3 separate regions of the Homo sapiens genome follow, and regions 2 and 3 are each linked to region 1. The links come from fine-mapping of genetic effects on gene expression. A gene starts in region 1. Each other region holds a variant in brackets. All regions are shown on one strand. Distances are from middle to middle. Region 1 holds the start of CAPN8 (calpain 8). Region 2 overlaps CAPN8 (calpain 8). Region 3 has its middle 8.2 kb from the start of TP53BP2.

The links. PIP is the estimated chance that this variant, and not a neighbour inherited with it, causes the effect. A credible set is the group of variants that fine-mapping cannot tell apart.
Region 2: its variant is the best candidate, but not a certain one, in a credible set for the expression of CAPN8 in rectum (CEDAR, PIP 0.56).
Region 3: its variant is the best candidate, but not a certain one, in a credible set for the expression of CAPN8 in subcutaneous fat (GTEx, PIP 0.80).

Annotation. Positions count from the first base shown.
Region 1 is chr1:223,662,423-223,669,239 of GRCh38, forward strand. CAPN8 (calpain 8) reads right to left here and starts at 3,279. Exons shown (of 21, transcript NM_001143962.2): 1 at 2,988-3,279. The coding sequence starts at 3,224.
Region 2 is chr1:223,548,199-223,555,015 of GRCh38, forward strand. CAPN8 (calpain 8) reads right to left here. Exons shown (of 21, transcript NM_001143962.2): 14 at 5,634-5,702; 15 at 2,762-2,819; 16 at 1,120-1,184. Among named protein-coding and RNA genes, the nearest start is that of CAPN8, 110 kb to the right of the region's middle. RefSeq lists enhancers at 2,558-2,607, 3,008-3,067. The variant T/G (reference allele first, on the strand shown) is at 4,229.
Region 3 is chr1:223,850,717-223,857,533 of GRCh38, forward strand. It overlaps the pseudogene PHB1P11. Among named protein-coding and RNA genes, the nearest start is that of TP53BP2, 8.2 kb to the left of the region's middle. The variant C/T (reference allele first, on the strand shown) is at 3,997.

The sequences.
Region 1 (6,817 bases):
TGGGCAACAGAGAAAGACTCTATCTCAAACAAAAAAAAAGAAAGAAAGAAAAAGAAAAAAGAAAAGAAAGGAAACGAAATTCGGGGAAGAATGAATGGGGAGTTTTTAAATGTGTATTTAGTTTCTGTTTTGCAAGATAAAAACAATTCTGGTGATGGAGGGTGGTGATGGTTGCATAGCAATGGGAATGTACTTAATGCCACTGAACTGTGCATTTAGAAGGGGTTAAGATGGCAAATTTTATGTTATGTGTATCATACCACAATTTAAAAATAAATGAGTAAATGCAACAAATGAACTTACAATGCACCACATTTCTGGATACCCTGATCTCTTTGCAAACCCTTGAAAGGCCTCTTGGGAGGAAAAAATAATAATGAAGCATTTAGGATCAGGCTAATTTTCTCAGCATTCAATGCATGTTCCTCATAGAGATAGGATCAGAATCTTTACTGATTCAGGAGTCTATTCAATAACTGTAAGATCTTAGAGGATAAGTCTGCCTTCTCTAATGTACCCTTGTGGTATGTGAGCATGAGCCTGCCCAAAAGCAGCTGTGTGATAATTTTTCACTGATGATTAGGGAAGGAGAGGTTAAATTTTGACACGCATTTATTTACTCAACACGCACTTGAAAACTCCAAATAGGAGTCCTTCAATTGCACCTTCCGCATTACTCAGGTTCTACTGCCTCATGCTCTGAATTTTACTTCCTCCTTTGACAGCCACAAATCAGCACATCCAGTCTACAATTACCGCATTTCCACAGACCACGAGGACAGGTGAAGACATAGTTTGGGGAAGAACAGGCTATGTGGTTAAGGAGGTAAAGTCTCTAAGGATTTCAAAGAAAGGAGAAAAACTAAGCAAAGGTTAACTGATACCTGACTTTGGTCTCTAAAGGAAAATTTTCTCCCCCTCCTTCCTCTCCCCCAAGACCCTTGGGATCTGCAATGGTACCCCTCCCTAAGGCTTTTCACCACCCAGTTGTGACAACCCAGGTTCCCATGGCCCATCATTTATGCCTCTGTAGAGTTCTTACTTCATTCTGCCTTGGGCATCTGTCCTTTATTCACACCTGTGTCTCCCCACACTTTCCATCAGAGCTGAGACCACAGCTCCTTCCTCAGCTTCTCCCTGACCACCTTTCCAATCAGTGCAGAGCCCATGCCTGGCACAAAATGGAAGCTCAAAAAAACTGTCTGTTGAAATGAAATGTGGCTGTCTTGAAATTAGAATAAAAACCATTACTCCCAATCTGGATTTTATCAACATACCAGGGTAACCCTATAGGTTTCAGAGGGGAATGGGAAGATGAACCACGGTGGGCGGGAGGGCAGCATGGCCAAGGAGTTATTCTCAGAGATGAAAACTGTTAGGCAAAATCAGCAGGATCAAAGTAAAAAGGGTAGAGGTAGCTAGCTGGAGTTAAATAGTGATTTTGACCATTTTAGAAGAAGTACTCTCCCTTTGTCTTCCTGTTTCAACCACTGCCAAGAAAATAGGAACCCTGACTTAATTTCCCTATCATGGTTTAGAAGACAAAAGGTGCCCAGGTCATTTCATAGCCCCTCTCCTGAGACGTTGTTATGAGCTCTGTTGAACAGAGCACTTTGTATGGATGAGCTCAATTCTCACAACCACTCTGTATGGGAGAGGTTCTCATCCCTGAGGAATCACTTGACAAGGGTCACATAGTGATAGGTCATGGGTCTAGGTTTTGGGAGGACTGTTCTCCATCCCTTGCCCTTGAGCTTTGGGTAGTATCAGTAACCGCATCCAGGAGCCTCTGCCTTCCGTCTGCATCCACAGAGCCCCAGCTCCCACCTCTCCACTCACCAGCCCTGATGGAATAATGTCAATTCATGACCTTGCGCAACCGTGCACCTTTCAGCAATGATGTTGTCACAATTTACCTGCCAGCTGATTGCATCCAGCACTGAGTTGTTCCATTGTGCACTGGCCCAGGGACCATATGCAGTAATAACAACTACGTATTCTGCATCTATTATGTTCTGGGCACTATGCTCTGAGATTTATCTCTAATTCTCATACCAACCCTGAAAAATAAGGTGCCAGTAAATGCCATTTTACAGATGAGAAAACTAAGGTTCACAGAGTTTACCGGCCCAAAACAACACAGGCAGAGCTAGGATTCAAATCTATCTTACCTAGTTCCAAAGCTCATCCATGCTCTTCTCTCTATACCTCACCATCTCTGAACAAGAGTTCAGGCTGGGTGTAGTGGCTCACATCTGTAATCCTAACACTTTGGGAGGCTGAGGTGGGCAGATGGCTTAAGCCCAGGAGTCCAAGACCACCCTGGGCAACACAGCACAACCCTGTCTCTACAAAAATATGTAAACATTAGCTGGGTGTGGTGGCACGTGCCTATAATCCCAGCTACTTGGGAGGTTAAGGTAGGAAAATCACCTGAGCCCAGGAAGGTTGAGGTTGCAGTGCACTGTGATCGCACCACTGCACTCCAGTCTGGGTGACAGAGTGAGACTCTGCCTCAAAAAAAATAAGAGTTCAAAAGGTGATGGGGGGGCCAGATGCAGTGGCTCATGCCTGCTATCCCAGCACTTTGGAAGGCTGAGGCAGATGGATCACCTGAGGTTGGGAGTTTGAGACCAGCCTGACCAACATGGAGAAACCCCATCTCTACTAAAAATACAAAATTAGCCAGACATGGTGGCACATGCCTGTAATCCCAGCTACTCGGGAGGCTGAGGCAGGAGAATCACTCAAACCCAGGAGGTAGAGGTTGCAGTGAGCTGAGATCATGCCATTGCACTCCAGCCTGGGTGACAGAGCAAGACTCCATCTCAAAAAAATAAAATTAAAAAAGGTGGTGGTGGAGGGATCTGAAATATGAGATCCAGACACTTAGGGTCCACAGCCTCAACTTCTCCCTCAGTTCCTCCTGATCAGATGTAAGGCCCCTCCACCTTGTATGTCACTCAACAGCAAGCCCGCTTCCTTACCGTGGGCCGCTTCCAGATGATGCCTTGAGTTTGCGGAGAGCCTGGTCCAAGATCCTTGTAGCCCAAAGCTGATGGACATGCTGGGAACTCAGGGTCCTTAAATAGGACCCCTGAGTCCAAGCACTGTTGCCTCAGGGTCTTGAAATCCTGGCCCAAGTACTTCAAAGCGTTTTGGTTGGAGCCAAGACCTTGAGTGGCTGCCCGCTGCCTAGATACACCAGCTGCCTGGGCTGCCATGGCCGTGGGCTCTGTAGGGTGGACAGAAGGGCAGGGCTGCACTGTACTCTCAGACACCTGCTCCACTGGGAGGGGAGCTATAAGGCACTAAAGGAGGTGGAGCAGACAAACATTTCACCTGAGGCCCTGTTCCAGAAGGAAGTGAGTCATGGCCAGGGACAAATATGTACCCAAGGTCCAGGCCAATCTGCCCCACCTTCTTCTTCTGCCTTTTGCAAATAATTTGGGGTCTGGGAACTTTCCAGGGCCCATCCCAGGCCATTAGCCTAAGAAATCCATTAGGATCTTGACCCCACCCCGGCATTCCCTCCACACACCTCTTTGCAAGACCTGCTTACCTTGCTTCAAGCCCATTGACTGAGATGAGAAGGCTTATTGAGCAGCTTGAAGCAAATATTCATCAAGGAATTGGAGGCATGGCTCTGAGCAGGAAGAAGGCAAGTAGTTACAGGGGCCTCCTTTCCTGCCAGAAATGTTTTGGTGCATATTTCCTAGGAAGGCAAAAAATACCAGAGAGTAGTGATTCACAGGCCAGATTTGGAATAAGCCTGACTGGAGGAGGTTCCACCTGTGAGTGAACGCTTTGGCCTCTGACTGCCTCGGTTTCTATCCCAGCTCCCCCGGTAATTTGCTCTGTCATGTTGGGCAAGTTGTTTAACCTCTTTTCTCCTAAGTTTTTTTATCTATAAACTGGAAGAGCATAGGAGAGCCTACCACAAAGGGTTGTTCGGAAGAGTGATGAGATAGTACATGTCATCTGCTTAGAACAGTATGAAGTAACATTCAGTGAATGTCAGGTATCACTATTCCTTGAAGCCAGGATTCCCAGAAAGGCCTTGGAATCAGGAGCCTTGATTCCAATCTCAGAAGTGAGTTACAAGCTGTATGACCTTGGATTAGTCACTTCTCTCTGGGCTCCAGTTTCCTACATCTGGTCTACCCGAAGGATGTCAACCACACCAATGCTTTTTGAACTTCAGTGTTTGTGGCACACTAGAAAATGGTCCCCCAAGGATACCAGGTCCTCATCTTGAGAACCTGTAAATAGTCCCTTATCTGGGAAAAGGGTTTTTGCTGCTATGACTAAGTTAAGGATCTCGAGATGGGAAGATTATCCTGACCCTAAATACACAAGTGTCCTAAGAGGAAGGCAGAAGAAGATTTGACAATAGACAAAAAGGAGAGGTGATGAAATGAGGCAGGCAGAGGTTAGCGAGATCCTGCCCCACTCCAGGGAACACCAGCAGCCACAGGAGCTGGAAGGGGCAAGAATGGATTCTCCCCTAGAGCCGCTGGAGGGATGTGGGCCTTCCAACACCTCGATTTCACAGCCTTGGGACTTCTGGCCTCCAGAACGGTGACAGAATACATGTATGTTGTTCTAAGCCACCATATTTGTGGTCATTTGTTACAGAAGACGCAGGAAACAAATATAGTGTGCAGAAGAATCCCCTGGAGCACTCGCTCAAAATGCTGATTCCCTAATAGGTGCTACCACAAATCCTCCACCCCCATCCCTCCCAAAAAAGAGTTCTAATTCAGGAGGTCTGAAGTAAGACCCAGGAATCTGCAGTTTTTAAACCAGTACCACAGAGATGATGCTAATACAAGGATCCAGGGATGCCCTCTGAGAAGCTCTGGACCAGCCGACCTCTGAGGCCTCCAACTCTGACCTTCTAAGCCAATGACAGTCCACGTGTTAAGCACTTAGCTAGGTGGGTAGGTCTGAGCAAGTAGAAAGAAGGGTTGCTCCCAGGTGTTCAGAAAAACATGTGGTTTCCCAGGTTTCATCAGAAACTCAAGGCCAGGCCAGGCATGGTGGCTCAGATCTGTAATCTCAGCACTTTGGGAGGCTGAGGCAGGAGGATTGCATGAGCCCAGGAGTTCAAGACCAGCCTGGGCAACATAACAAGACCCAGTCTCTAAAAAAAAAAAAAGAAAAATTAGCTGGGCATGGTGGTGCATGCCTGTAGTCCCAGCTACTCAAGAGGCTGAGGTAGGAGGATCACTTGAGCCCAGGAGGTCAGGTCAAGGCTGCAGTGAGTCACCCACTCCAGCCTGGGTGACAGAGTGATGAAACCCTGCCTGAAAAAAAAAAAAAGAAAGAAAGAAAGAAAAAGAAATTCAAGGCCAAAATGGCCTTCAGAGGCTAAAGCTAGCCTCAGAAAGACTATGGTCCATGCCCCCTTGGGGACCCCGTCTTCCTTCCCTCAACATCACTTTCCCTTTGATTCCACATCTGCCCACTATTAAGCTCATCTAGTGTTCACAGTTACATTTTCACCGGCCCACACAGTTGACACGGTCTCACTTGGGTGGCCCCAACCACCCCTAAAACCAGAACCACAACTCCATTCAGTCAAAACAGAATGGTCATTGCAAATCTTGGCTGTGTCACTGCCAAGCTTAAAACCTCCAATGGCTGCCCACTGTTCCTGGGAGAAGAGTAAGGGGGATTTTGCACAGCCCATTAGACCTTGAGCAGCTGGCCCTGCCTACCTTTCCTCCTGCTCCATTCTCCCCTCCTGGCTTTCTTTCCATTCCTGGAATGTTGTGTTCTGTCCTGCTTCAGGGCTTGACACCTTCTGTGCCCTCCACCTGAAATGTTCTTCTCCCCACCCCAGCCCTGTTCATCCAGTAGACCTGGGTGCCCCAGAAAAGGTTTTCTGGACAACTCCACACCTCATACTAAGCCATTTTCCCCTCTTATACGCTCTCATAGCAACCTGCAAGACCCTGTCCCGCACCGATTCCTGTAATCATTTAATTAATGCCTCTCCACCCCATAAGGCTCTGATCTCCACGAGGACAATTACCCCTGTTTGTTTTACTCATTGTTGTATTCCTGAACCCTAGAAAGCTCCTGGAACATAGTAGGGACTCAATAAATATTTGTTGCATGAATATACACCTACAGGTATGAGATGTGCTGTGGATAAACGTGCACCAGGTATAATGGACCTGACACCTTCCGGCAGGGTCATTAGTTCATTAGCAAGGATCCTATGGGATTGTTTTTCTTGCCTCTTTCTCCCCTACACCTCCCAGAAACATTCCCCTTAGACTGACTAAAATGAACAAGCCCTTCCTCCATCCAATCACAGAATAAGCACAGCTGGTAATTTTCCTTCTGCACAAGGGAACTCCTTCGAGGTTAGCAATCTCCTTCCTACCCCACCTGCCTGAATTACCTCGCTCCCACATCCAGATGCTGTGCAAACAAACCCTTCCTCATCGAGGCTGGCAGGTCTGAGCCACTGAAAATAGAGCCTTCCTTGTATCCAGGCACAAAAAGAACAAGTGGAGTTGAGAAGTCTCTGCTCCCCAGCGCCTCATGAGCAGACAGCAAACATCTATGTGTTCTCCAGCCAGGTACCCAGGAGGAAGCAGCCTGCATCCACTGTCTCTGTCCACCTGGACAGATGTCTCTCCAGCCTCACACCCCAGGCACCACAGGAACCAGTGCCAGCTCCTTGCCAGGCAGCCTGAGGATCCACTAAGAGGTTGATGAGGGTGTGCAGACACAACTGACACACGCCTGGCAGCACCTCCTTAATAAGAACACTTCTCGGCAAAGAGCCCAGGTGAATGCT
Region 2 (6,817 bases), 110 kb before region 1:
GGAACTGAGAAAAACCCTCCAAGGCTCCAATTTTTAAAGAAATCACCTTCACCATCAGCACTGTGATAAATGGCAACCTGGACCCACTGTGGGCAAAGCTCTAAGGAAGTGATGTTACACCACTCACCCTCTGTGCCTTCACACCTAGAAGGTTCCTTCCACCTAGAATGCCCTGACCTTCTCCATTCCTCCCAAAAACTACTGCCCATTTGCTATAGACTGAGTGTTTTTGTCCTCCAAAATTTGTATGCTGAAACCCAATCCTCATGTGAGGATATTAGGAGATGGGCCTTTGGGAGGTAATTAGGTCATGAGGGTGGAACCCTCAGAAATGAAATTAGTGCCCTTATAAAAGGAACCCCAGGAAACTCCCTCACCCCATCTACCATGTGAAGTTATAGCAAGAAGATGCCATCTATGAACTAGGAAACTGGCCCTTATCCACCACAAAATCTACCAGCACCTTGATCTTGGCCTTCTCAGCCTCCAGAAGAGTAAGAAATAAATTTCTGTTGTTTATAAGCCACCCAGTTTATGGTCTCCTGTTACAGCAGCCAGAACAGCCTAACACACCATACTTCAATATCAAGTGAGGGTTAAACTAGATCAGGGAGAACAAATAGATTTTATCTTGTGTGATAACTCTAAACTATCAGTAGTAGCTGTCCACAAGCCATGTTAAGATTCTGAAGCAAAGATCAGATAGTGATGGGGAGAGCTTGGGAAGCAGGGAACGGTAGAGGGTGGGGGTGGGGACGGGTAGAATTGAAGGGGAGGAGGAAGATGAAGAGATGAACAGAGTGTGGAGGGAGCAGGTGCGCAAATGCCCCATGCTTGCTACCTCCAGATTACATGATTTTAAATAAGTCACCTAAACACTGCACACCTCGGTTTCTTCACCTGTGAAACGGAGATAATCTCAAGCTTTCTGAGACACATCCATGATATGATACATTTTCCTTTGAGGCTTCAAGTACAATCCTTGACATATGCTCCATGCCTGCTCTCTCCCCTTCTCATTTTTTACCCGTCCCTTCCTTCTAACTGGAAAAGGTGGAGGAGTCTTTAAAAACCGGACGAAAGTAAAAAAAAAAAAATAATGCAACATTTAAAGGATACATCCAACAGACTGATCATTTCCCTGCAAGTGTTGATGTTGAATCCATCGAATTTTATGTCTGTTCCTAAAGATTTAAATAGAAAAGGGGAGTGGGAATCGGATCATTTGAAGGTGAGGGAAAGAACCTCCACGGTAGAAGACCTCCAAAGATACCATCCAAGGGTGTGGAACCGAACTTGGTCTCTGCCAAAAGGGGAGAGCATCATGGCAGGCTTGTGGGCAGATACGCCTGAGCCTCCTGGTGCCGTGGGAGATAGAACAGACAAGCACCAGCATCCAAGTACAGCATCTGAACCTTGGCTTGGCTCCCCACAAGCCACAGACTTCAGCAAATTAATATCTTTGAGCTTTAATTTCCTCCTCCATCAAATGGGAATAATCATGATAGTAACAATGACCATACTTGCCCCAAAGACTGGCTGGGTATTAACTGAGATAATGAAAGTGAAGTTTTAGCCCAGGCTTGATATATGATAAGTTCTTAATAAAACAGCTAACTTTATATGGCTAGGTATTGTTATAAGCACTGCACATCTACTCTTCAAAATCACTCCGTGTGGTAGATGCTATCATTATACCCACTTTATAGATCAGGAATCTGAGTCCCAGAGAGGTTATATGATTTGCTCAAGGTCACAACCAGTAGGGGGCAAAGCTAGGAGTTAAATGCAGGCCAGCCAGCTCCACAGCCTGAGCTTGTAATCACAACACACAGCCACTCAATGACAGCAGCTATCCTTCCTTACTAAATTGCAGGCATGTCACTGGAGCTCCATCCCTGGCCTCCACCCTCACCTTCCATATACCTGGGAGCCAAGACAGGTGCCAAAGACCCTGCAACCCCTTCTCTTTCTCTCCACTCTTCAACAACTGCAGGAGCAAGAGTGGTGTGGAGAGGAGACGGGCCTGTGCTCCGAGCCCTGGGGATCCATCTGCTCAGCCCTGGGTTCGTCCCTGGGAAGGGTATGACTTGGCTCCTGGGCCAAGCCCCTGCTTCCTGCATTCTCAAGCCCTGTCCTGCTGCAGTGAGTGAATGAGAGCCCATCACTCACTGGAAGACTTAACCTGGCCCATCCCTGGACCCGGAAAGAAACCAGCTCCCTGTGTCCTCCTGTGGGCTGGGGCTCAGAGGGGAGATGCAAATCTTTCCTCCTGACAGCTCTGAGGCTTGCAAAAATCTGAAGATGGGGAACTGAGGACAGTCTAGGAGAGTCAGAATCATCCCTTCCTTCCTCCTTCCCTCAAGATGAGCTACAGAACTAGATCTTTCATCTGCAGAGGTTTCCACAGTATCCAAGTTATTAATTTTGTGAAAAAAATTCACTTAAGTCAATCCCAGCCCAGCTCTTTTTCTCCTGGGACTCAGCCTGCAATTTCACTTGACACTATGGAGCTTTGTTCCTTCAGGTGCTGGCTGCTTGCCAGCACCAGCCCCGCCTTCACCTCCACCCTCGCCTCCCCGTCTTCTGCCTCTCCTTCTTCCCCTCTTGTCTTGCTGGACTGAATCAGGGCTCCTGGGGTCAGACACCAATGCCCTTTCTCCCACCTGTGGTGCTGCCAGCCCAATGCCTGCCTACCCATCCCTCACCCTGCCCCAGCATCTCCTACGGACTTTCTGAAAGACCCCAAGAAGGAACTTACTCTTGGAAAACGCCTCATTCAAAAGTATCTTGAGTGCATTGGCAGTAATCTCAGAATCCTAGAAAGAGGAACCCAAATGCAAATCATGTCAGGCCCTGACAAGTTGTTTCAAGACAGTAAATTAATGCAGTGCTTCCTCACAGTCAGACACCAGGCCCACTGGCCCTGTGAGGTTTATTTGTTTTTGTTTTTTGTTTTTTTTTGAGACAGTCTTACTCTGTCACTCAAGCTGGAGTGTAGTGCCGCAATCTCTGCTCACTGCAACCTCCATTTCCCAGGCTCAAGCAATTCTCCTGCCTCAGCCTCCTAAGTAGCTGGGACTACAGATGCGTGCCACCACGCCTGGCTAATTTTTGTATTTTTAGTAGAGACGGGGTTTCACCATGTTGGCCAGGATGATCTTGAACTCCTGACATCGTGATCTGCCCACCTCAGCCTCCCAGAGTGCTAGGATTACAGGCATGAGCCACCGTGCCCGGCTGGCCCTGTGATTTTAAAAGCAGGTGGCATCTTTAAAAACTCAAATTATCCTCTTCTTTTGGGGATCCCAGCAGCCTGGCCAGAGGTGTGTTAGTGCCATGAGTGTGGTACACACCGTGGCAGAAGGCTGCCATGCCAGGGTCCTGCTGCCTTTCACAGGGCTCGCTTGAACAGGGATAAAGTAACAGGAACAGCAGTGATAGGATTGAACCAGATGTGCCAGAGCCAGTGTGGAAGATCCTTAAATCCTCAGCACAATTCCACAGCCATTTTCAAGTTAAGGAAGTCGTGATTTTGTAAACTGCTGAACACTGTATACATGCAACATCATTTGTCATTTTCATGTGACGTAATTGCTTGTGGTTTGTAGCTACCAAGAGGCAGAGCTAGACTTGGAAACCTAAGGTTGGTTCACCCCAAAGTGCCGGCTTTCCCCACCACACCTACAGGAGTTGGTATTTCACATAGGAGCCCATCTCAAACTGGGGGCAGAGATTGAGAGAATAGCATATTCTGTGTGCATCTGGGATAAACACTGAGCCAGAGGGAAGAGTCATCCCTTAACTCTCAGATGGAGAGCAGATCTCAGGCAGGATGACCAAGGAAATGCAGAGAAGGCGTGCTGGGCTGATGTCTGGGTCCCAGTCTCAACTCAGCCCCTTATTCATCATGTGACTTTAGCCGAGTCACTTTCCATCTTCCCATCCTCCGCTAGCCAGGCCCTGGCAATTCTACTGGAAATGAGAGAGGCAAGAGCTGCACAAAGCAGTGTCTCCTCTGAGGACAACTGGCCTCACCCCAGCACAGAGTGGTCAGTCCCAATAATAAGACCTGAGGACCTGGGCCAGGCACGGTGGCTCACACCTGTAATCCCAGCACTTTGGGAGGCCGAGGTGGGTGGATCACCTAAGGTCAGGAGTTCGAGACCAGCCTGGCCAATATGGCGAAACCCTGTCTCTACTAAAAATGCAAAAATTATCCAGGCGT[T/G]GTGGCTGGCATCTGCAGTCCCAGCTACTCGGGAGGCTGAGGCACGAGAATCGCTTGAACCCGGGAAGCAGAGGTTGCAGTGAGCCGTGCACCACTGCACTCCAGCCTGGGTCACAGAGCAACAGTCCATCTCAAAAAAAAAAAAAAAAAAAAAAGACTTGAGGCCCCTTTAAAAAGCCTCTGGGGCTAGAAGACTACCCCCATTAGCCTGCCAGGAAAGAAATGGGATGTCAAGAGTCTACATTTGGACCTTGACCCCGTCGTTCATGAGGCCTTGTACCCTCAGCCAGCTCCTTAACCTCTCTGTGCAGGCCACTTTACAAGCCGAGCAAGGAGAGTGACCAATACTGCCCCATGCAGCCAGAGAGAAAGGTAAGATAAAGTGCATGAAGAACTATGCAAATATGAGCTTTTCCTTTCATCATTCTTGGTGTTCTTAATAAAATATGGCCCTTGGCAGCTAAGGAAACAGGTTTTGTTAGCAAAAATACTGGCCTGTAAATCCATCTAAAACATAAATTGGCTCATCTTTGCAAGGGTTTTATTCAATGGCTATGCAAAGGAACTGTTCCCAGGTTTTATTTCCTGCAAGGGATTCTGATATCTTTTCTTCTATTTTATCCTTAAGTCTAGAAAGTCACCCTGAGTTTCCCGGGGTGGTGGGGGGAGACCATTGTTTTTTCCTCTTCCGGGCCCTTTTCACACACTTTATTATCCTCCAAAGAGTAACACATTCGCTGTATTTATGGGGCCGGTTTTGACATTTCAAGTCCTGGTTATGCTTTGACTTGTGGCCCCCACCGGGCTGCTACCAAAGTGAACGGAAGCCAGGGCAGGGGAGAAGGATCAGGGGTCGCTTCTTTCTCTGCTCCAAGTGCCCAAGTTGCATTCATGTCGGGCAAAGCTTGGATTCCTCAGGCTGCTGGTCTCCCAGAGGGCGGGCAGGGCTGCAGGACGGTGACAGGGAACAGGGCTAGTCCTGCACACTAATCCCAAGCCAGGTTAGCTGAGCTGCCTTCCACTGCGGCTGGGCAATCCTCACTCTGAAGGATATCTATTTGGAGAGGTTTTGCCATCCCAGCTTTTTATTCAGAGACCCCAATCTGACAGGGCCAATCTGCAAACAGAAAGGCTTTTGGCAGGACCTGGAGATCTGGCTTTTCTATTTTCTCAAGAGTCAGTCAACGCAGCAAGATAAGTAGCCTCAGGACCAATTCCCAAGTGATGAAGGAAAGGTACTCAATCTTAAGACAGGATGGTGATGGGCACAGAAGCTGGGGGCCCCTGAGACCTGAGTCTCACCCTTTTTATGCCTAGAGACCTCAGGGAGTAAAGAATGAAGTGACCTGAGCATTCCTGAATATTCTCCTGCCCACCTGGGAAGCCATGTTCGCCCTCCACTCACCTTCCCTGCCAACTTCTCAAACAGCCTCCTGAACTGGTCATCTTCCTGATCCACCTCACTGGGATGTGGCTAAAAAGAAGGACATTTGCAAAGTTAAAATGGGAATCGTCAAGGAGAATGAAAGACGAAGATTTAAAATTCATTCCTTCATCCATTAGTATCTATGATGCACCTACTATGTGCCAGGCTTTGGGCTAAGTGGGGGCACATGGTGGCAAACCAAGAGACAGCAAAGGTCCTGGCCCCAGGGAGCTTACAGTCCAGCAGGGATGAGCAGAGAGGCAGCGCTGGGGCCTAGCAGTTTTCTCTCTAAGTGATTTGGGGAAGTGAGCCCCACCAACCCTGAATTTCTGATTACAACCTGAACAACTTTCAGAAAATGACACTGACACCAGAAAATCTTGGTGTGAATCTGTGGACTCCTAAGGGAATCACTGATAATTTTCCAGGGAGTCTGAACTCCAGAAATTGCGTGAAAACATGGGGTCATATCTAAATGCATTTTTGGCTGGGTGCAGTGGCTCACACCTGAAATCCTAATACTCTGGGAGGCTGAGGCGGGCAGGTCACGTAAGCCCAGGAGTTCGATAGTAGCCTGGGCAACACGGTGAAACCCCATTTCTACAAAAAATACAAAAATTAGCTGGGTGTAGTGGTGCACGCCTGTAGTCCCATCTACTTCAGAGGCTGAGGCCACAGTGAGCCAAGACTGTGCCACTGTATTCCAGCCTGGGTGATAAAGCGAGACCTTATATCAGAAAAAAAAAACATTTTCTTAGCTTTCATCAGATTCACGAAGAGCAACATGATTTCAAAAGTGTTGAGAACATGGCCTAGTAGAAAGAGTAGAACTAGAAGCCAGGAGACTGGAGTTCAAATAGCAGATTGTACCCTTACTGGACACTATCTCAGGGCTCTGAACATCCATGGCCTCCACTCTGTTATTGATTTAACCAGACCATTTTCATGGGGCCATTTTAGGAATCAAATGAGAGCTAATGTGGGTCAAAGTCCTTTGGAAATTACAAACCATTATATGAATGCTTCTGTCCAGAGACTTTCTGATGTGACAATGGGCTCTGCCCAAAATAGGACAATGCCCAGTTGTCACCACAAGACAGAATGGAAAAGTGACAGCTTCCCAGATGACACGAAATTTCTAGAAAGCCGGGTTAATTTCTTTC
Region 3 (6,817 bases), 190 kb after region 1:
TTTTTTTAAGAAACAAGGTCTTACACTGTTACTGAGGTTGGAGTGCAGTGGCATGATTATAGCTCACTGTAACCTCAAACTGCTGAGATCAAGCCATCCTCCCACCTCAGCCTCCCAAGTAGCTGTGATTACAAGCATGCATCACCATGCCTGGCTAATTTTTAAATGTTTTGTAGAGATGGTGTCTCACTGTGTTGCCCAGGCTGGTCTAGAACTCCTGGCCTAAAGCAATCCTCCTGCCTCAGCCTCCCAAAGTGTTCGGCTTACAGGCATGAGCCACTACATTGGCTAAATGTCACTCTTAAGGCCATGTTTGATGTTTCTTACACAGAATTAATCAATATTTCATGTATATTCCATAGTACCATGTTGTGGTATTTACAACATGACAGAAAAAAACCACATCTGTCTCCCTAACTAGCTGCAAGGCAAAAACGATTTCTTACTCATTTATTTGTATATCTTTAGCCCTAACATTGTGCCTAGGGAATAATAGATACTCAATGGTATAGTACCTAATAAATGCTTACCATGCTGTCTTTTCTCTTTACTAGGTACAGGAATAGCGAGATTTTTGTTCTGATTCTTGCAATAGCCTTGGGCAAGTCTTCCCACAACTTCTCTTGCCTGCTGCAATTCATTCTCTACCCTAGAGCTTAGCAAACTACAGCCCAAATTTGGCCTTCTGCCTGTTTTTGTATTGCCTATGAGCAAAAATCATTTTTACATTTTTAAATTGTGAGGGGGAAAATCAAAACAAGATGAAGAATATTTTGTGACATGCAAAAACTATATGAAATTCAAATTTCAGTGTCCATAAATAAGGTTTTATTGGAACACAGACACACTTATTTATTTATGTATTGTCTAGTGCGGCTTTCAAGCTACAACAAGAGTTAAATAGTTGCAACAGAGCCTGTACAGCCAGCAAAGCCTAAAATATTTACTACCTGGAAATGTGCTGACTTTTGCTCTACCCAGCAGCAAGAATGGTCTTTTTAACACAAGTGTAATTATATCACTCCTGTGGTTAAAACTTCTCATCTAAGTAGATGGGGTATGGATGGGCCAGGACTAAAGGCTGAAGGGTGTTAGGGTCAGGTGATGAATAATACCCGGGAGTGATGAGTTACATTTTTCTCTCTTCTTCTGTATGCTCTAAATTTTAGATAATAAAATGACTTAAAAAAGAAAAGCCTTCAGTTGCTTTTTATTGCTGTTAGGATAAAGAATACTTCAACATGGCCTCTAAGCCTTCACATGGTCTATTTCATACCCACCCTCCAAGGTAGTTGGAGTAGGAAGAAAACCCAGCACACATATATCTCCTCATAATCATGACAAAAGATTCAAAATTGGTAACTTTGTAGGATAAACTCAGTGTTTGAAGACATATATCTATGATATATGACTCTAGCTTGATTTGGCTAAAGTAATTCCCTGTTTTATTGGTAGCCCGTGGAAAAAGGAGCCCATGATTTATTTTCTTCTATTGTCAGTTCTCTCTCCATTACCTCACCCCCTCCTCACTCATTTAGTCTGCCTTTCAGCCTCATCCCTCCTCTGAAACAGCTCTTGCCAAAGTCACCAATGGCCTGTGTTTCACTGATCCAATAAACATCTTCAGTCTCATCTTCCTCAACCTTCTAGAACAACTTAGCTGTTGCTCATTCCTTTCAAAACACCCTTTTCACTTGACTTATATGACAAGGCTCTTACAGTTTTTCTCCTACCTCCCTGATTACTTCTTGGTATCCTTTGAAGGCTCATTTTTGTTCACCAGACTTTACAAGTTGAAGGTCCTGTAGTCTCAGTCCTAGCCATTTCCTCTTTTCACTGACTACCTTCACTTCTTCCTTAGAAAGTTGTCTTCACAGTCTTAAACCTCATCGACACACATCTCTCTCTTTTTTTTTTTTTTTTTAAGAGGTGGACTCTTGCTTTGTTCCCAGGCTGGAGTGCAGTGGTGCTATCATAGTTCACTGCAGCCCCAAACTCCTGGAATCAAGCAAGACTTCTACCTCAGCCTCCTGAGTAGCTGGAACTACAGGTGCACACCATCATGTATGACTAAATTTAATTTTTTTCAACTTTTTAATTGTTATGTATTTATTTATTTTTTTTAGGTGGAATTTTGCTCTTGTTGCCCAGGCTGGAGTACAATGGCAAGATCTCGGCTCACTGCAACCTCTGCCTCCTCGGTTCAAGCAATTCTCCTGCCTCAGCCTCCCAAGTAACTGGGATTACAGGCATGCGCCACTATGCCAGGCTAATTTTGTATTTTTAGTAGAGATGGGGTTTCTCCATGCTTGTCAGGCTGGTCTCAAACTCCCGACCTCAGGTGATCTGCCCTCCTCGGCCTCCCAAAGTGCTGGGATTACAGGCGTGAGCCACTGTGCCCAGACTATTTTCATATTTTTTTTTATAGCTGCAGGATCTCACTTTGTTGTCTAAGCTGGTCTCAAATTCCTGGCCTCAAGCAATTCTTCTGGATTGACCTCTCAAAGTGCTGAGATTACAGGCATAAGCCACCATGCCTGGCTAATTTTTTATATTTTCAACCTAGGCTGCTTCTCTAGGTTCTAGAACTGCATTGTCAAATGCAAAAATCACTAGCCACATATAGCTGTTGGGCACTTGAAATGTGGCTAGTGCAACTGAGAAACTAAATCTTTTATTTTAGCTTAAATGTAAATAGCCACATGTGAGTAATGGCTAAAATACTCAGCAGTGTAGATACAGAACACTTCCATCATCACAGAAAGCTCTATTGAATAGTGCTGGATTTCCATATCAACATGTCTCAACTCAGCATGTCTAAAACCAAGGGGTAGTTTTTATTCCCAATTCTGGTTCTCATCTAGTACTTCCTGTCTCAGTGTATGCCACAAGTGTTCTCCCATTTTCTCAAGCCACAGACCTGAGAATCATGTTTGACCTTATTTCTCCCTCATCTCTAAGATCTATTCAATCATCAAGGTCTATTCATTCCGTCTCCTAAATATCTCATCAAGCTCCCTTTCTTCCGTGACTACAGCCATGCTATTCAAGCTACCATCATTTCTCGTAAATCTGATCACAAGATAGCACTGCTTGATGTCCTTCCTTAACTCTGCCTCCAAGCCCTTGAATGCCTGTCTCTGCCCATCCTTCAGTGGTACTAGGTACCACAGTCCTCTCCTTCTGTGAGACTCAGCCACACCACCTTTTTCAGTTTCCCTTTTGCCCTTCATGCTTCCTCTAGCACATGCTGTAGCATAGCTCCAAGGACCTCACCTTCACACCATGTGTCACCACTGTATTCACTGTATTCATTACACTGGTTTGTGTTATTCAATTAATGTCAGTCTCTCCCACAATACTGTAACCCACAGGTAGGGACTCTACTCATCCTTGTTTAGCATGGATTCTTCAGTACTTAAAACAGTGCTCAGTCCATAATAGTAGAATGAATAAATAAATTAATTAAAGAGTGACTAAATCAATGAATTATTCATTTGTCTGTAGCTTACATGATTCAAGTCAGTGTTTCCCAGTTCTATGGCCATAGATTATATCTGTCACCCCAAATAGCCATCTCATAAATGCCTACAAAAAGTTCTGATTGAATGAGAGTGAAAGGATCTATGGAATGTAAATCTCTTGCTGAAATACAGACCTAAAGTGCTCCCCTTCTGATGATTGGCCAATGGTGGTGTCTTTCATAAACAACTATATTTATGAGGCCGGGCGGTGGCTCGCACCTGTAATACCAGTACTTTGGGAGGCTGAGGCAGATGGATTACTTGAGGTTAGGAGTTCGAGACCAGCCTGGCCAACATGGTGAAACCCCGTATCTACTAAAAATACACTGGCCGGGCGCGGTGGCTCACTCCTGTAATCCCAGCACTTTGGGAGACCAAGGCGGGTGGATCACCTGAGATCAAGAGTTCAAGACAAGCGTGGCCAACGTGGCAAAACCTTGTCTCTACTAAAAATACAAAAATTAGCCGGGTG[C/T]GGTAGTGGCCGCCTATAATCCTAGCTACTCAGGAGGCTGAGGAAGGAGAATTGCTTGAACCCGGGAGGCAGAGGTTGCAGTGAGTGGAGATCGCACCATTGCACTCCAGTCTGGGCAACAGAGTGAGACTCTGTCTTAAAATAAATAAATAAAATACAAATACAAATACAAAAATTAGCTGGGCATGGTGGTGAGCACCTGTTAACTCAGCTACTTGGGTGGCTGAGACAGGAAAATCGCTTAAACCCAGAAGGTGGAGACTGCAGTGAGCCGAGATGGTGCCACTATACTCCAGCCTGGGCAACAGAGTGAGACTCTGTCTCAGAAAAAAAAAAAAAAAACTATATTTATAACTACCGTGTTACCATGAGCATTTGAAAAAAAAAAAAAAGAAAATCTATGTGATGAGACTTTAGAAAGAAAAATTAAGGCTTCTCTATTGACAAGCAAGAGAATTTTAGCCTGAAATACTGAAAACAGGCTTCCAAGTGCCAAGAACTCACAAAGGCCCATTGGCCACCAACGAAGTATGTCGCAGCTTCCATTCTCCCCCTTGCAAAGGGGCTTTATTCTACTGTAAGGAATGTACATGTATTTCTTCTTGGTCACCTCTTAAACACACAGTGTTAGATGAGAATGAACTGAATGAACTGCATCCTAACCATTTTTAAATCATTTTTAAACTTGGGATTTATTCAAGTATTTTTCAAGAATACCTATGAAAAGCACACTGATTTTACAGCTACGTGGCCTAAGTTCCTTTGAGGAAAGGACCAGTTCTTAAAGTTCTGGGCATTCCCTTTAGCCTAGCACACAATGTTTGACTCTCAATTACTAAATGAATGTAATTGTGTTGCTGCCACAAAAGTTTTTCTCTGAATAGCTAAAGATAAATAATTAGAAAAGGAAAAACTAGGCCGGGCATGGTGGCTCACGCCTGTAATCCAAGCACTTTGGGAGGCTGAGGTGGGCAGATTGCCTGAGGTCAGGAGTTCAAGACCAGTCTGGCCAACATGGTGAAACCCCGTCTCTACTAAAAAAAAAAAAAAAAAAAAAAAATTAGCCAGGCATGGTGGTGTGCGCCTGTAATCCCAACTATTCGGGAGGCTGAGGCAGGGTAATTGCTTGAATCAGGGAGGTGGAGGTGGCAGTGAGCCGAGATCACGCCACTGTATCCAGCCTGGGCGACAGAGTGAGACTCAACTCAAAAAAAAAAAAAAGGAGAGACAAGGAGAAACTAACTCGATGATTTTATATCATCATTTAAATCCCACTTATGAGGAATTCATAACTCACTTCTAATAACTGTTATGTATGACATTCAAGTTTCTTATTGACAGTTGAGAATATTTCACCCCACCTCTTATTGTCGCCCAATGTACATTAATTGAGACAGAGTAACTTTTTTTGTATTTTGTCAGGCAGCCCCTGAACCCCAGAACAGGTTCAGAGAGACTCCCAAGAGTAAAATTTGTAAAAGTCTTGGCCAAACTCAATTTTTATTGCTCTAGTTAAGGCCCAGAGGGAGCTTTTAAAAGGTCAGCAGAGAAGGTAAATTTAGGAGACTACAAAACTGAAAAAGGAGAGTAGTATCTGCTTAGAGAGAATTTTCACTTCGAACTGATGAGTCCTCAAACTGTAACCACTGAAGATTTTTTTCTCCTAAAGTAATTGTTTTCTGAAATCTATTTTCTTTCTTTTTTTATTTTTTGAGATCTGAAGTGGTTTTACCTTTATTTCCTTCACTTTAAGTCAATCATGAAATTTCACAGTGATTTCTGGAGTGGGAGCAGAAGGGAGGCGGCGTTAAGAATCACCGGGGCTGTGGCCCGGTCAGCCCGCGGAAGTGGAGGCCGTGTGGGCCCTCACTGGGGCAGCTGGAGGAGCACGGACTGCCCCGCCAGCAGATAGGTGATGTTCCAAGAGCGTGAGAGCAGGTACGCGATGTCTTCCACAGCTTCCTGCTCGATTAGACCGTCCCCCGCGGTGACCAGTGAGTTGACAATCAGCTCAGCTGCCTTGGAGTCGCCCTCAGCAGAGATGATGGCCACCTTTTTCTGCTGCTCAGCCTTTTCCACCACAAATCTCGCCCTCTCTACTTCCTGCTGAGCCACCTGTTTGGCTTCCATCGCTTCTGTGAACTCCTTCCCGAAGGTCAGATGTGTCAAGGACACGTCGTCCAGGATGAGCCCAAAGGTGGCTGCTCGCTCCGTAAGGTCATTGCTTACCTACCTGGAGACCAGCTCTCTCTGGGTGATTAGCTCTCCAGCATCAAAGCGAGTCATCGCTGACTTGAGGATGCCGGTCGTGATGGACAGCAGCACACGCTCATCATAGTCCTCTCCGATGCTGGTGAAGATGCGAGAAACTGGCTAGCAACGGCCCAGAAGAGGATGCGCAGTGTGATGTTGACATTCTGTAAGTCTTTGCTGCCGGCGATGACTGGCACTTTACGTGGTCGAGAACGGCAGTCAAAGATAATTGGTTTCTGTACCCAGGGGATGAGACAGTGAGTCCCTTCCCCTACCACAATGTCCTGTACTCCATGGAATCGGTCAAAGATGACAGCTCTGTGCCCAGCATCCACATTATATAAAGCAGAGTTCACCACGCCTCCTGCAACAGCTAAGGCCAGGCCAAACTTGCCGATGGACGCAAACACTTTGGCAGCCATGTTTTCTTCTGCTTGACCCTCTCACATCTGCTTCTACTCTGACCTCCACATGAATTCCCCAACCACACATACCCTGAAATCTATTTTCAAACATACATCACATTTACTACATCTAATAGAATAAATATGAACTTGAAAAAAGTAAT